Linked DNA regions of Homo sapiens: regions 1 and 3 are each linked to region 2. The links come from fine-mapping of genetic effects on gene expression. A gene starts in region 2. Each other region holds a variant in brackets. All regions are shown on one strand. Distances are between the middles of the regions. Region 1 overlaps BAZ2B (bromodomain adjacent to zinc finger domain 2B). Region 2 holds the start of BAZ2B-AS1 (BAZ2B antisense RNA 1). Region 3 overlaps BAZ2B (bromodomain adjacent to zinc finger domain 2B).

Region 1 (5,227 bases), 63 kb before region 2:
GCCACAGGTTGGACAAGCTTGACTTAAACCATGGAGACAGTAGAGTTCAAATAAAACAAGTGAGATGTTTAAAAAAAAAAAAAAAAGACATTTTCACACTGGCATAAACTTTTTTCTTTCTTTTTTTTTTTTTTTTTGATACAGAGTCTTGCTGTGTAGCCCAGGCTGGAGTGCAGTGGTGCAATCTCAGCTCACTGCAACCTCCGCCTCCCGAGTTCAAGCAATTCTCCTGCCTCAGCCTCCTGAGTAGCTGGAACTACAGGCATGTGCCACCACGCCTGGCGAATTTTTGTATTTTTAGTAGAGATGGGGTTTTGCCATGTCGGCCAAGCTGGTCTCAAAACTCCAGACAAGTGATCTGCCCACCTCTGCCTGATCCACCCACCTCAGCCTCCCAAAGTCCTGGGATTAAAAAAGGCGTGAGCCACCGCATCCGGCCACAATGGCATAAACATTCTTCATCAAGCTAGCTTGGTGTATCAGGATTAGTTTTGGCCAGGAGTGACAGAAAGCCCAAAAGTGAATGGCTCATACAATACAGAATTTTATCTCTGTCATGTCAAAGAAATCCAGGGATAGGCAGGCCAGTAGGGACAGTGTAACATCATGTTAGTAAGGATTTTCTTTCTTACTGCTGCTTTACCCATTCTCAGTATAGGGTTTCCACTCACAGTCCAATTATGCTCACAATTCAGCCAGCAAGGAGGAAGGGGGCGAAAAAGAGGATGTGCACCCATTCCTTTAAGGATACATCCTGAAAGTTGCACACACTACTTCTGCCTATATATCTCTTGCCAAAATTTAGCCAGATTACTATACCTAGCTGCAAGGGAGACTGGGGAAATGATGTTTTTATTCTAGGTAGTGATATACCGGAAAAAAAATTAGAAGAGGGGGAAAACCAGTATTAGGGACAACTATCAATCATGCCATACTTGGTTATATCTTCTCTGTGGTAGGTACCTGACATTTTAAATTTACTAGCTAACACCAGTATTTCTGACAGTATGTACACTATAAAGTTATACAGCAATTCCTTCTACATCTCAATTATTAAGTATTACTATTGGGAGAGGTGTATCTCTACAAAATTTAAGTAATATTCATAATAAAATTACCAAAGAGAAAAATAGAAAAAAAAATTTTTTTGAGGCAAGGTCTTCCTCTGTAGCCTAGGCTGGAGTACAATGGTACAATCTTGGCTTACTGCAGCCTTGAACTCCTGGACTCAAGCAATCCTTCCACCTCAGCTTCCCGAGTAGCTGGGACTACAGGCTTGAGCCACCATGCCTAGCTGATTTTGTTTATTATTTTGTAGAGACAAAGTCTCACTATATTGCCCAGGTTGGTCTTTAACTCCAGGGCTCAAGCAATCCCCCCTGTTGGGCTCCCAAAGTGCTGGTATTACAGGAGTGAGAGCCACTGTGCCCAGGCAAGAAATTTTAATAAAAACAGAAAAAGCCACTTTATTTAAAAGGTTGCCGGCCGGGCACGGTGGCTCACGCCTATAATCCCAGCACTTTGGGAGGCCGAGGTGGGCGGATCACGAAGTCAGGAGATCAAAACCATCCTGGCTAACATGGTGAAACCCCGTCTCTACTAAAAATACAAAAAATTAGCTGGGCGTGGTGGCGGAAACCTGTAGTCCCACCTACTCAGGAGGCTGAGGCAGGAGAATGGTGTGAACCCGGGAGGTGAACCTGGCAGTGGGCCAAGACTACACCACTGCACTCCAGCCTGGGTGACAGTGAGACTCAGACTCAAAAAAAAAAAAAAAAAAAAAAAAGTTGCCTTAGGACAGATTATTAAATATACAGTAAAATATTAAATAAGAATATCTGAAGATAAAATATAGCCACTATAATAATGAAATTACATATAAACAAGACTGCATGTAAATGCAACTGCAAAAATACGCTCAGAGAAGACAGAGGATTAAGGGAGATTTAAGAAAATAACCTCTGAATTATTTTATTATACTTTCTATAAATGCTATTTAGACACCTTTAATCAAGTAAGAACTGATCACAAAACAGAACAGTAAAAATTCTAACAGGATAAAGCAAAGTCAGGTTAGTCCAAGTTCTCAAATCATGTAATTTTAGACAAGTAACTTTACAGATATTGATGAGTATGATGAGGGTAAGAAAAGTGTAGTATGTGCCATCTTTTGTGCTAAGTGCTTTATGAGCAATGTTTATTTAATATTCCAGACATAATAATATTATCCCTACTCTAGAAAAGAAAAAATTGGGTCTTAGACTAAGAAACTGACTCATGATCACATCAGCTACAGAAGTAGCAGAACACAAACTAAAACAAAGGTTTTTCTAACCCCAAGTCCATGTCCTTAACTATTATGTGCACTACTTTCCCACAAACTCTCTAGACCTTGGTTTTCTCGCCCATTACCTAAGGGGAATGCAGAGTACTCTAAACTATTCTATAGTTCATTTTGGTTTTTTAAGATGTTGCCATTCTAGTTCTCTGACTCCCTTTTCCTCAAATAAAAGAACATTATATTAATAGGTCCAATTGGCCTCCTTGCTGAAACTTGCTGAAAGTCAATAAAGTTATCACTAATATACATAATGTAGAAAT[C/A]TATTTATTAAAACAGACAAAATGGCCACAATTTGTAAGTAAGGTAAATTTGAATGTTTAGGATATATCACTGAACTTTATAGTAGATTTCACGCCCATTGGTGTTATCTGTAAAGGAGTAAGCCATAAAATTCTATCACGAAGAGGGAGGAAAGCTAATAAAAATTGAATTTAAATTTCATAATCCTTTTAAATTCAAATAATGCATCGTTTTATAGGTGAAGATACTGAGGCACAAAGAGGCTGACTTGCTAGAAGTCACATCGCTAGTACACAGTGACGTTAGTACTTGAACTCTATAGGTTCTAAAATCTAAGCTCTTTTCTATCCACCCTGCTTCCTGTGGTTAAATTATATTAATGTATTAATATCCTTATTTCAATTTTAATATAAGAACACTAAAGATACTAATTGATTTAGCACTTTCTGGTTTATTATGATTGCCAACAAACATTTGCTGAGTATCGTAAGATGTGTATTAAAATAAGTACCCTAAATACAATTATGTTATCAGTAACCCTGGAGTAATAAAAATTAAGCATTACCAAACTATTAGGAACAGAGAACAAGGATGATTAGGGAAAACCTCAGGGAGATGATTATATGTGGATATGGTATTAGAGAGACAGTTTGATTTCACCAGAAGAAATTTTTTTAAGTGTGAAAAGAAAAAGAATATTCTAGGTAAAGGGAATAGCATGAATGTAAGTGTGGAGCCAAAATGTGTATCCAAGGTAGGGAATGTAGTCCACATTAGGTAGAGTGTACAGTTCTTATTCTTGAGTAATAGAAAATATGCTGAAGACAGCCTGGGCACAGTTGTTCACTCCTATAATCCCTGCACTTTGAGAGGCCAAGGCGGGTAGATCACTTGAGGTCAGGAGTTCGAGGCCAGCCTGGCCAACATGATAAAACCCTGTCTCTACTAAAAATACAAAAATTAGCTGGGCCTGGTGGCACCTGCTTGTAATCCCAGCTACTTGGAAGGCTGAGGCAGGAGAATCACCTGAACCCAGGAGGCAGAGGCTGCAGTGAGCCAAGATTGCACCACTGCACTCCAGCCTGGGCAAGAGTGAGACTCTGTCTCAAAAAAAAAAAAAAAAAAAAAAAAGAAAAGAAAGAAAGAAAAGAAAATATGCTGAAGACAAACTGAGGAAGGATCTTAAATACCAAGTTAGAAGGTCTGGATTTGATCACATAGGAAATGAGAAGCCACCACACATTTTCAAGTAGAGAAATAAAAGGAACCGAGCAATGCTTTAATCAGATCAAACTGGGAGTTGTGTACAAGTTTCAGTGGAATTGATAATGGCCAGGAAGAAGGGAGATCAGTTAAAAGGTTTTGACATTTATATGGATTGTGACATCAAAGAAAAAAACAGCAATTCTCCTGACTTCTGAAAATTTTGATTAAAACATATATAAAGTATATATTACATAATATATAAATAGCTACTACACTTCAGCTCTGAAACAACCCATAATATAATCTCCCTCTCTAACCATAACATTTTACTTTTAGTTCTTACTATGTCATCTCATTATACCAGTTTATGGATCTATGACTAGTCTCCTGATCTCTCTACTTCCTTTGGATAAATCAGCCCTTTCCTGGCCTCATTTTATTCCAGCCACACGGTAAACATATATTTGAACTACTCTCTCACTAGCACTCTGAACCTGAATCAATGTTGAAATCTACCCTCTTTTCTTAACTCAAAGGGCCAGCAAAAGCCTCACAACAGTGTCATAACAAACTTAAGGTTTCTAATATCAGTCACTTATGAACCTCTCAAATGAACACTTCTTACTCTTTAACTGATATTTAACATCTAATAATATTAAATATCACCTCTCTTCCTGAAATTCTTGGATTTAGATCAGTTGCAATTAATTACTCTCTTAATGTTACCCTAAAAATAAACTGTGGGAAAAAAAATTTAAATAAAAATAAGCTGTGGGAGTCAGCATTTTTAAATTTTAAAAAAGGTTTCATTTAATGCTAATGTTAACTTCCTTGATTGTAAAGCACTAGATGCTAAACAGAAGGTTTCTATAGAAATATGTCAATATTTTATTATAAAATATTCAGTTAGGGCAATAAAGTTCTAATTAAGAAAAAATAAACAAGGAAAGAGCTACAAATCAAAGAAAGCTAAAATGCTGCCTCAGGAAAATGAATAAAATATGCTATAAGCATTAGTAGACAAAATTATGATGATAAAGCCTTTAAAAATAAATAAAATTTCTCTCTAGTCTCTGCAAAATGTTAAACTTAACAAATGAACCAGTTTTCAAAAAAAAAAGATTGAACATAAATAAAAACATTATTGATATGTGAATTTATACTTCTAATAATTAATGCTTCTGGATTTAATGAGTTAAATTAAAACAGTTGAAGAAGCAGGATCATGGAGTAAATAATTTGGTAGAAATTTATTTATCTGTTATTTAAGAGAATTTTTCAAAAATGATATAAAGTTCATGATTGTAATTCAGATTTTATCACTTAGAATTTTCTAATGTGGATAAAGGCCCTGGAAAAGTTTTTCTTTAGGTAATATATGTCCTTACACACAACAGAAATTAACACTTAAAATAAAATTAAAAAGTATCAGTTACTTAA
Region 2 (5,227 bases):
GAGACTGTTCTAGAAAGAAAAAACCTGCATAAGAATCCATCTATTCTAAAAATTGTAAATAAACAATATTCAAGTAAAATCAGTATCATAATGTTATGTATAAAACTCAAAAATTAAAACTAAAATATATCCTTCCTTCATTTAATAAGTATTTCATAAATGATGCCAGCAGTATTCCAATAAATGCATTTCCAAGACTGAAGAGTTTAGAAGTATTTTTTCATTAGTGTTTGTAAGAGTAAATGGTACTACAATTCGGCACTAGTTTAACATGTGAGAACAGTGAAGCTACTATTATCTGGATTTTAAAATATGTACCCATTCCTGTTTCTCTCCAACCATTATAAGAACACAATATTAAGTTCTCATAAATAACTTTGTATTTTTAAAGCATACAATCTGATTTTCTAAAAAAAAAAAAAAAAAAGACTCTTCATCATCGTAGGCTTAAAATAATTTTAAATTCAACCACTTGTTTCAAATACTTGTAAAAATTACTTTTTTCTATCTGAACCATACGAGTGTCTTAATGTTGTCCAAATTACTGATTATGCAGCAGAGTGACAATAATATGTACAGTGTTTACAATAGGTGTGAGACATCAAATGTACTTAACTACCATTTTCTTAAACTGCTTATCCTCTGTTGCTTGCCATTTATAATCTGCCAAATCTTCTAGTCCTTTGTTGCATGTATAATTTAGAACCATCTGTTCTATGTGCTTTTAACTATTTAAACATTTTTCACCTACCTACAATTCACATAAATGGCAGACACTCAACTCAGTCAAGCTTTCTATATAGCATATTACATGAAGCAAATTCCTGGATAAATAGATAACACCAAAGAAGACTGCTACAGAAATAAAAACTTACCATATAGAACATAAATTTCTGTGTGTTACACAAACCTTTTCAATGTATTCAGAATTGTTTCTATTAGCTTTTTTTAAGTTAATTGTAGTCAGTGTTTTTCCCTCAACCCAGAAGACAAAGAGAATGCAAATTAAATACAGACAGTTTCATGTCCTTGTTAGAAGAGATGTAAATATGCTGACTGAAAATGACTACAGGAGACAGAATTCCACTTTCCCATTCAATATACAGTGCCTCTTATTTATATACTAGTCAGTGTATCATTAAGCTTGGTCATGTGACCAAACCAACTTTTGTGAGGCGAAAAACTATGTTAGACAAGCAAATTAAAACAGTGCTAGTTTTTGTTTATCTGTTCATAATGGCTGACAAAGAGTTTATAGCTAGCGATTATAAAATAACTTTTAAAATCAATTCTGCCTCTTAAATACTCAATAATTGTTTGACTTAATATCTGCTACTAAATTTTAAAGTATCCATTATCTTAAGGTATTTTCCATAGTCATTTCTTTTCAAAATGTAAATAAATAATAGAAAAAGAAAACCCCAGAACATTTTATTAGAAACGGGGAGCCAGATAATCTAAAATAACCATACATAAATATTAACCAAGCTAATTTTCAAAAAATCCATAAGGGAGAGTGGAGCAAATAAGAAAGGGAATATACTGACTACAGATAACAGTTGAAACCTTTAAATTAAAAAAAAAAGTACACAAAAACCAGATAAATAACAAATGACGCACAAGTTTTTTACCATTTTTTGCATATAATCTTCCACCTGTTACCAAAACATACAATACGCAGACTTCGTATACTGATTTTGAGAGCAAAACACAAAAATAAGCCACACAACTTATCAGTAACCTGTAAGTTACACAATCCTATAAAACAGGAGAAAAATTAAGCAAAAAATTTACTCTTGGGAAAATTTCTCCGTAAAGTTTACATGACGTCACTGGGCCCCCTGAACATTCCCTAAACTTTGAGACTTATCCAGACACACTTCCTAATACTTCTTTCCTTTCCTCAAAAATAAAAAAGAGAGAGACTTGGGAATAAAATTGCCCAAGATGGCGAAACGCTTGTTGTTTAGAGGGCAGGAAAAAAAATGGAGGATATTGTAATATACACAAAGGGATAAATTTCAACAACTCGGCCAAGGACTGCAGCTGCTTCCCTCTTTATAAGGAAGCAACAGACAAAAGATAAATACAGAGGGAGAAAGAAAAGAAGAGAAAATCTCCCAAACAACAGAGCCAGCTCTGACTCTTCAAACACTTCCTTCCCCTTCTCAAATCCCAATTCTGGGGTTCGTGAAACTACTTAAAGGGGAGGGAGCCGCGAAAGAGAACGGGGGCTGGGGGGAGGGGTAGCGACAAGAAGATTAAAAGAGGGAAGCAGAGGAGTTGGGAGCTGGCGGTCGTTCCCGGGGAAGAACTGCTAAAACATGAGACCAAGGCACAGACCTTACTGTATGAGAAGCAATGCTCCTCAAACCTTCTGCGTGCTGACATAGACCTTCCCAGGTATCCAGATCTTTTCCCAATCCCACCTGCCCCACCCCCACCCCCGCTCATCTTCAGTAAACTCAGAGCCTCCAGCTACACACGGGAGAGCTAGAGGCCCAAGCCGGGGAGTGGGGGTGGCAGACGCAGCTCGTCAGTCCGACAGGGAAGAGGGGGCGGAGGCAAAAAAGGGCAGCAGGAGGCGGACGGGGGTGGGGGGTGATCCAGAAACTACCCCGGCAGGGAGTGGGGGAGCAGCGGATATTCCGGGGTAGGAACGGCCATCGCAACGCTGACAGAGGTTGTTTTTTAAGAAGCAAAACTGTTGGCGGCGACCTGAGCGCTGGAAGCCGAAGGGGAAGAGGAAGGAGACGCGAAGCCAGGGCGGCCGGCACAAAGGCGGCGGACTCGCGGCGGCAGCGCCTGCCCGGCCGGGAGCACAACCCACGGCCCTACTCCAGCGAAGTCCCGCACCGGCTTCTAGGAATAAAGTTTACGTTCTCCTGAGGCCGCACCCCCCACCTCCCACCCAGGACGGCACATCTCCGTGTCCTCCTCCCCCAAACTCCACTCGGGACCCCGAGAACCACCCCAGCCTTCCGGCCACCACAACAAAGAGCCGCACCGACCGGCGAGGATAAACAGCGGCGGAGGGCGAGAGGGCGGCGGGGCGAGCGCCTCCACGCAGCAACTCCGGAGTCCCCCGCTTGCCCGAGCGCAGTTTCTCCGCTGCTGTTTCCACCGGCTTTGTAACACTGGGAATTTACATCCTCACCCGCACCCCTCACGCCCGAGGATTTTAAACTCACCTTTACTCTCGAACTGAGAGTTGCGGTAGATGGGATTTTTGCCTTTTCCCCAGATGGTTGAAGGTTAAGATTTTTGGAAACCCCACCACCTCCTTATTTCTATTATTATTTCTGCAAGAAAAGTATAAAGAGAGTTGTAGTGGAGGTGAGATTTGTGATCGGGAAAGCCTTCGACTCCCTCCTTCTCCGTCTTCCGCCTCTCTCTCTCTGATTAGTTCCTATCCAGCAGCAGATTGAAGCAGGAGATGATTCTTCTCAAGGTTTGTTCAGCAGCTTCACTTCTAGGCGAAGGCTTCATGAACCAAGTGACGTCAACCAACAAGGCTTCTCTCTCTCTCCTCTCTCTAACAATGAAAGTTGCTGTTAACAAGGGAAAAAAAGAGAGAGAATTGTTTATACCATTTCAGTTCCAATAATAAATGACCTATCAGCTCCTAAAGGAGCCAAGGGAGGGGGTTGCTTCTTCTTTCCAAGAATACTGTAGCTTTGAGTTTGCACCGTTCCTTGTCCCAGGAAAAAGTTAAGAAACTTAAAATGTTTTGTTTTGCTTTTAAAGAAGACAGGACAGAAAACGGGATTTAAAACTTAGTTTTTAAAAAAACAAAAGCTACAGAGTAGGGAGCATAGGTCAACCATCTCCACCTAAATTTTTTTTGTTCCTAAACTCAGAATTCTACAACCCAACTAAATTAATATGCCAAGATTTTGCGGATGTTAAAACTCAAAAAAAGCAGTATGCAAGACGGTCCCGGGGTAAAATTCTACTGCCTTTCCACGGACAAGTTAAACTGGCTGTAATGTTTATGCACTAAGTTAAAATAAAATTTAAATAAAAGACGTTAAAATAGTCGTTTTAAAGTTATATGCACACACTGTAAAAGGTAATCTCGATAGCTTTTTTTCAAGTTTCTGAGAGATTAGAAAAAAAGCATAGCAAATTGTAGGCACTGAACACTTTTTAAAAATCAAGTTATGAGTAAGACTGGTAGCCCTTTGCTCCTTTAAACTACAAATGCAGTCATATGCTATGGTCTACCCCCAGAATCTCTTCCAACTTTGTTTTTACCCTTCCACTCCCCCAACCCCAATTCCCAAATCCTGCAACCAATCAAGTTAAACTAAAGATACAATAGGCCCCATTCCCTCCCGCACCCCATCCTATAGATTCCTAAAAACAATTTTTTTAAAAGCCTTAATCTTGATAACACTTTATTAGCCAAGAAGATACGTATTTTTTTTTTTAGAAGTTCGTTGAGGTACCGTTTTTTCCCTCCAGAACACAAGAAAGTCTCAAAGTTCATATAATTAAAAATTGCATAATTTAATTTTCAGGATGAAGAGTAAGTAAAAATTAAGCTATCGGAGAATAATTTGATCATCTATGTATATTTTATACATATGTGGATAAATGTATCTTAAAAGATGCTATTGTTTTATGTTTCCTCTTCAGCCACTGGCTGTGATTTTAATTGTGCTGGAGGATCTTCATTAGTATTAACACATGGGGAGATTTCACAAAGCTGCTTCATTAGGAAAAAAAAAAAGCTTGGCAGACTCGGTCTTTTTGCATGCACTGAGAATGTCAGCCTTACCTCGGTCATTTGTAACATAATAAGTGCAAGTACAATGATTGCAATGCAGGAGCACTGGGGGAAGGGCAGAAATACTGCCTGTCTAATAGGGATATCTGAAAAGAAGGCTGCTCATTACAGAGTAAAATGTATGCTAAAAATTAGTGAAGATGATGTCTCAGGAGACTGATGCTAAATAAATTAATGTGCTGATATGTTTTTAATTATTATTTTTGTAGTAGTTTATTTCATTCTCAGGATTCACATTGAGCAGCAAAGCTGTGCTAGCACTTATTGATTTTTTTTCCCTGCCACATTCCCGGAATACAGATTTTAATCATTTCACTACACCACACTCAGTAATTTCATTAAAAACTGGAATCTTCCATCCCCAGAAAAGCATTTAATTTCAATGACATACAATTTCTCTTTTAGCAGCAAACTGTCTCTACAGTAAAAACTGGC
Region 3 (5,227 bases), 36 kb before region 2:
GGTGACAGAGTGAGATCCTATCTCTAAAACAAATTTACTTAAAAAATAACATGTTCCAAAACATATTATTGATTAAAAAGGAAAATTACAAACCAGTAGAGTATGACCTTATTTTTATAAATGTGTGTGTATATTTACAGGGAAGAGCATTTACCACGTTAAAGAGGTTAGCTCCAAATAGTAGAATTTTAAGTGACTTAACTGTCTTTAAAAAATTATTTCTGCATTAGTTACACTTTCTGTAAGTATGCATTACCTTTATAATCAGAAAAAAACTATTTTGATTTCTTTAAATAAATTTGAAAAACAAAGAACTAAAAGAGGATACCAGTTCTTGGTCCAATGATTGTTTTCACTACACAAAATGATCTGCTTGATCCAAGCAAATGTTCAGTTAGGGAGGAAAAATACTTTAAATGTGCCCTAAGATTAGAGAAACCTGACAGCCTAGGGAAAGATGAAAAATAATAACAATTATGTGACAAGACTCAAGAATATCTCTATCTTAAAACGTATCTGCTTCAGTTTAGATTGACCAAAGTCCTTTTATACACCACAAGAAATAAAAGTAGGTACCTTAATGGGAAGGAGAAAGGCTAAAGAAATAGCTAAGAAACTTACTAAACACACTGAAACTTATAATACTGCTTTTCAAGCTATTCTTAAAGTAATTAAAAGAATTATTCAACATGAGAAAAGAACTAGTTCATTTATGTTAGAGGACTTAAGTAATTTAAAGAAAGCTACATCAAATTGTCTGAAACCTCACTTGTTTTCACTTGTCATTAATTACCTACCAAGATATCACCTGCTGACAAAAAGAAAAACCTAAAGACATAGAAACTTTAACTTTCCCTAGTATGAACACATGAAAACTGTTCTTTTCCCTTATAAAAACTCTAGTGCTTAGCTTTCTTATTTGAATTCAGGAAAGAGTACTAAATGAAGACAAAAATTCAAAGCAAAAGGAACAACACTGAACAACAGAGTCAAGAAACAGACTGTGGTTTCAATTTTCTACTAACTCTTAATTTTATAAGTAAAACAAGAAGATTGACAAGAGCTTCAAATACTTTTAATGGAGGATCAGTGATACAATACACTCTTTGAAAAATTCACAGTTCATAAAAAAAAGAAAAGTTCTATGGTAAAATAAGTTCAGAAAATTGTGCACACCCTTTGCCCTTTTTGGAGATCCATAATGCAGAACAGAAAATACTTCTGTATAACCCAATGTTTCCCAAAATGAGAGACAAACAAAATGTCCCTCAACAAAGGAATGATTTAAAAATGCTTACATTAGACAGATCAACGAGACAAAAAGTTAACAAGGATATCCAGGAATTGAACTCAGCTCTGCACCAAGCAGACCTAATAGACATCTACAGAACTCTCCACCCCAAATCAACAGAATATACATTCTTCTCAGCAACACATCGCACTTATTCCAAAATTGACCACACAGTTGGAAGTAAAGCACTCCTCAGCAAATGTAAAAGAACAGAAATTTTAACAACTGTCTCTAGGACCACAGTGCAATCAAACTAGGAATCAGGATTAAGAAACTCACTCAAAACCGCTTAACTACATGGAAACCGAACAACCTGCTCCTCAATGACTACTGGGTACATAACGAGATGAAGGCAGAAATAAAGATGTTCTTTGAAACCAATGAGAACAAAGACACAACATACCACCACCTCTGGGACACATTTAAAGCAGTGTGTAGAGGGAAATTTATAGCACTAAATGCCCATGAGAAAGCAGGAAAGATCTAAAATTGACACCCTAACGTCACAATTAAAAGAACTACATAAGCAACAGCAAACAAATTCAAAAGCTAGCAGAAGACAACAAATAACTAAGATCAGAGCAGAACTGAAGGAGACAGAGACACAAAAAAACCCTTCAAAAAATCAATGAATCCAGCAGCTGGTTTTTTGAAAACATCAACAAAACTGATAGATCGCTAGCAAGACTAATAAAGAAGAAAAGAGAGAAGAATCAAATAGACGCAATAAAAAAATGACAAACGGGGTATCACCACCGATCCCCCAGAAATACAAACTACCATCAGAGAATACTATAAACACCTCTACGCAAATAAACAAGAAAATCTAGAAGAAATGGATAAATTCCTGGACACATACACCCTCCCAAGACTAAACCAGGAAGAAGTTGAATCCCTGAATAGATCAATAACAAGCTCTGAAATTGAGGCAATAATTAATAGCCTACCAACGAAAACAAGTCCAGGACCAGATGGATTCACAGCCGAATTCTACCAGCGGTACAAAGAGGAGCTGGTACCATTCCTTCTGAAACTATTCCAATCAATAGAAAAAGAGGGAATCCTCCCTAACTCATTTTAATGCCAACATCATCCTGATACCAAAGCCTGGCAGAGACACAACAAAAAAAAGATAATTTTAGACCAATATCCCTGATGAACATCGATGCAAAAATCCTCAATAAAATACTGGCAAACTGAATCCAGCAGCAAAAGCTTATCCAACACGATCACATTGGCTTCATCCCTGGGATGCAAGGCTGGTTCAACATACACAAATCAATAAATGTAATACACCATATAAACAGAACCAAAGACAAAAACCACATCATTATCTCAATAGATGCAGAAAAGGCCTTCAACAAAATTTAACAGCCCTTCATGCTAAAACCTCTCAATAAACTAGGTATTGATGGGATGTATCTCAAAATAATAAGAGATATTTATGACAAACCCACAGCCAATATCATACTGAATGGGCAAAAACTGGAAGCATTCCCTTTGAAAACTGGCACAAGGCAGGGATGCCCTCTCTCACCACTCCTATTCAACATAGTGTTGGAAGTTCTGGCCA[G/C]GGCAATCAGGCAGGAGAAAGAAATAAAGGGTATTGAATAAGGAAAAGAGGAAGTCAAATTGTCCCTGTTTGCAGATGACATGATTTTTTATTTAGAAAACCCCATCGTCTCAGCCCAAAATCTCCTTAAGCTGATAAGCAACTTCAGTAAAGTCTCAGGATACAAAATCAATGTGCAAAAATCACAAGCATTCCTATATACCAATAATAGAGAAACAGCCAAATCATGAGTGAACTCCCATTCACAATTGCTTCAAAGAGAATAAAATACCTAGGAATCCAACTTACAAGGGATGTGAAGGACCTCTTCAAGGAGAACTACAAACCACGGCTCAACAAAATAAAGGATGACACAAACAAATAGAAGAACATTCCATGCTCATGGATAGGAAGAACCAATATCGTGAAAATGGCCATACTGCCCAAGGTAATTTATAGATTCAATACCATCCCCATCAAGCTACCAATGACTTTCTTCACAGAACTGGAAAAAACTACTTTAAAGTTCATATGGAACCAAAAAAGAGCTCGCGTTGCCAAGACAATCCTAAGCCAAAAGAACAAAGCTGGAGGCATCACACTATCTGACTTCAAACTATACTGCAAGGCTACAGTAACCAAAACAGCATGGCTACAGTAACCAAAACAGACATAGAGACCAATGGAACAGAACAGAGGCCTCAGAAATAATACTACACATCTACAACCATCTGATCTTTGACAAACCTGAGAAAAACAAGCAATGGGGAAAGGATTCCCTATTTAATAAATGGTGTTGGGAAAACTGGCTAGCCATATGTAGAAAGCTGAAACTGGATCCCTTCCTCACACCTTATACAAAAATTAATTCAAGATGGATTAAAGACTTAAATGTCAGACCTAAAATCATAAAAATCCTAGAAGAAAACCTAGACAATACCATTCAGGACATAGGCATGGGCAAAGACTTCATGACTAAAACACCAAAAGCAATGGCAACAAAAGCCACAATTGACAAATGGGATCTAATTAAACTAAAGAGCTTCTGCACAGCAAAAGAAACTACCATCAGAGTGAACAGGCAACCTACAGAATGGGAGAAAATTTTTACGATCTACCCATCTGACAAAGGGCTAATATCCAGAATCTACAAAGAACTTAAACAAATTTACAAGAAAAAAAAAATCAAACCACCACGTCAAAAAGTGGACAAAGGATACGAACAGACACTTCTCAAAAGAAGACATTTATGCAGCCAACAGACACATGAAAAAATGCTCATCATCACTGGCCATCAGAGAAATGCAAATCAAAACCACTATGAGATACCATCTCATGCCAGTTAGAATGGCGATCATTAAAAAGTCAGGAAACAACAGGTGCTGGAGAGGATGTGGAGAAATAGGAACACTTTTACACTGTTGGTGGGACTGTAAACTAGTTCAACCATTGTGGAAGACAGTGTGGTGATTCCTCAAGGATCTAGAACTAGAAATACCATTTGACCCAGCTGTCCCATTACTAGGTATACACCCAAAGGATTATAAATCATGCTGCTATAAAGACACATGCACATGTATGTTTATTGCAGCACTATTCACAATAGCAAAGAATTGGAAACAACCCAAATGTCCATCAATGATAGACTGGATAAAGAAAATGTGGCACATATACACCATGGAATACTATGCAGCCATAAAAAAGGATGAGTTCATGTCATTTGTAGGGATATGGATGAAGCTGGAAACCATCATTCTGAGCAAACTATCACAAGGACAGAAAACCAAACACCGCATGTTCTCACTCATAGGTGCGAATTGAACAATGAGAACACTTGGACACAGAGTCAGGAACATCACACACTAGGGCCTGTCGGGTGGGGGGAGGGGGGAGGGATAGCATTAGGAGATATACCTAATGTAAATTACAAGTTAATGGGTGCAGCACACTAACGTGGCACATGTGTACATATGTAACAAACCTGCACGTTGTGCACATGTACCCTAGAACTTAAAGTATAAAAAAAATGCTTACACATCACTGTATAATCCTTTTAAAGAAAACGTATTTATATATATTCACATGGCAGACTTCTGTTGCATAGGTAGAATATATAATCAAACTGCAGAATGCATATTTAATTAGATTTTAAAAAATAAGTATATATATTCATGTGCATATTAAAAAGGTCTGAAAGAATGTACAGCAAACCATTTTAAAGTAGTTCTGGAAACTGCCATCAGCAGGGCCAAAGGGAATATATTTACTTTATGAATGGACAGATTTGAGTTTCTCCGGTAAGAATATATCGCTTTGTAATACAAATAAGTAGCCACCAGAAAACATAAATGCACTGGGTAAGTTCACATACTTTTTTTTTGAGA

The links. PIP is the estimated chance that this variant, and not a neighbour inherited with it, causes the effect.
Region 1: its variant is fine-mapped to the expression of BAZ2B-AS1 in whole blood (TOPMed, PIP above 0.99).
Region 3: its variant is fine-mapped to the expression of BAZ2B-AS1 in whole blood (TOPMed, PIP above 0.99).

The regions. Positions count from the first base shown.
Region 1 is chr2:159,549,705-159,554,931 of GRCh38, forward strand. All of the region lies in intron 2 of BAZ2B (bromodomain adjacent to zinc finger domain 2B), which reads right to left. Among named protein-coding and RNA genes, the nearest start is that of BAZ2B-AS1, 63 kb to the right of the region's middle. The variant C/A (reference allele first, on the strand shown) is at 2,602.
Region 2 is chr2:159,613,051-159,618,277 of GRCh38, forward strand. BAZ2B-AS1 (BAZ2B antisense RNA 1) reads left to right here and starts at 2,244. Exons shown (of 2, transcript NR_110588.1): 1 at 2,244-2,403; 2 at 2,700-4,992. BAZ2B (bromodomain adjacent to zinc finger domain 2B) reads right to left here and starts at 3,498. Exons shown (of 37, transcript NM_013450.4): 1 at 3,192-3,498. RefSeq lists enhancers at 1,449-1,977, 3,034-3,560, 3,188-3,267, 3,518-3,587.
Region 3 is chr2:159,577,204-159,582,430 of GRCh38, forward strand. All of the region lies in intron 1 of BAZ2B (bromodomain adjacent to zinc finger domain 2B), which reads right to left. Among named protein-coding and RNA genes, the nearest start is that of BAZ2B-AS1, 35 kb to the right of the region's middle. The variant G/C (reference allele first, on the strand shown) is at 2,865.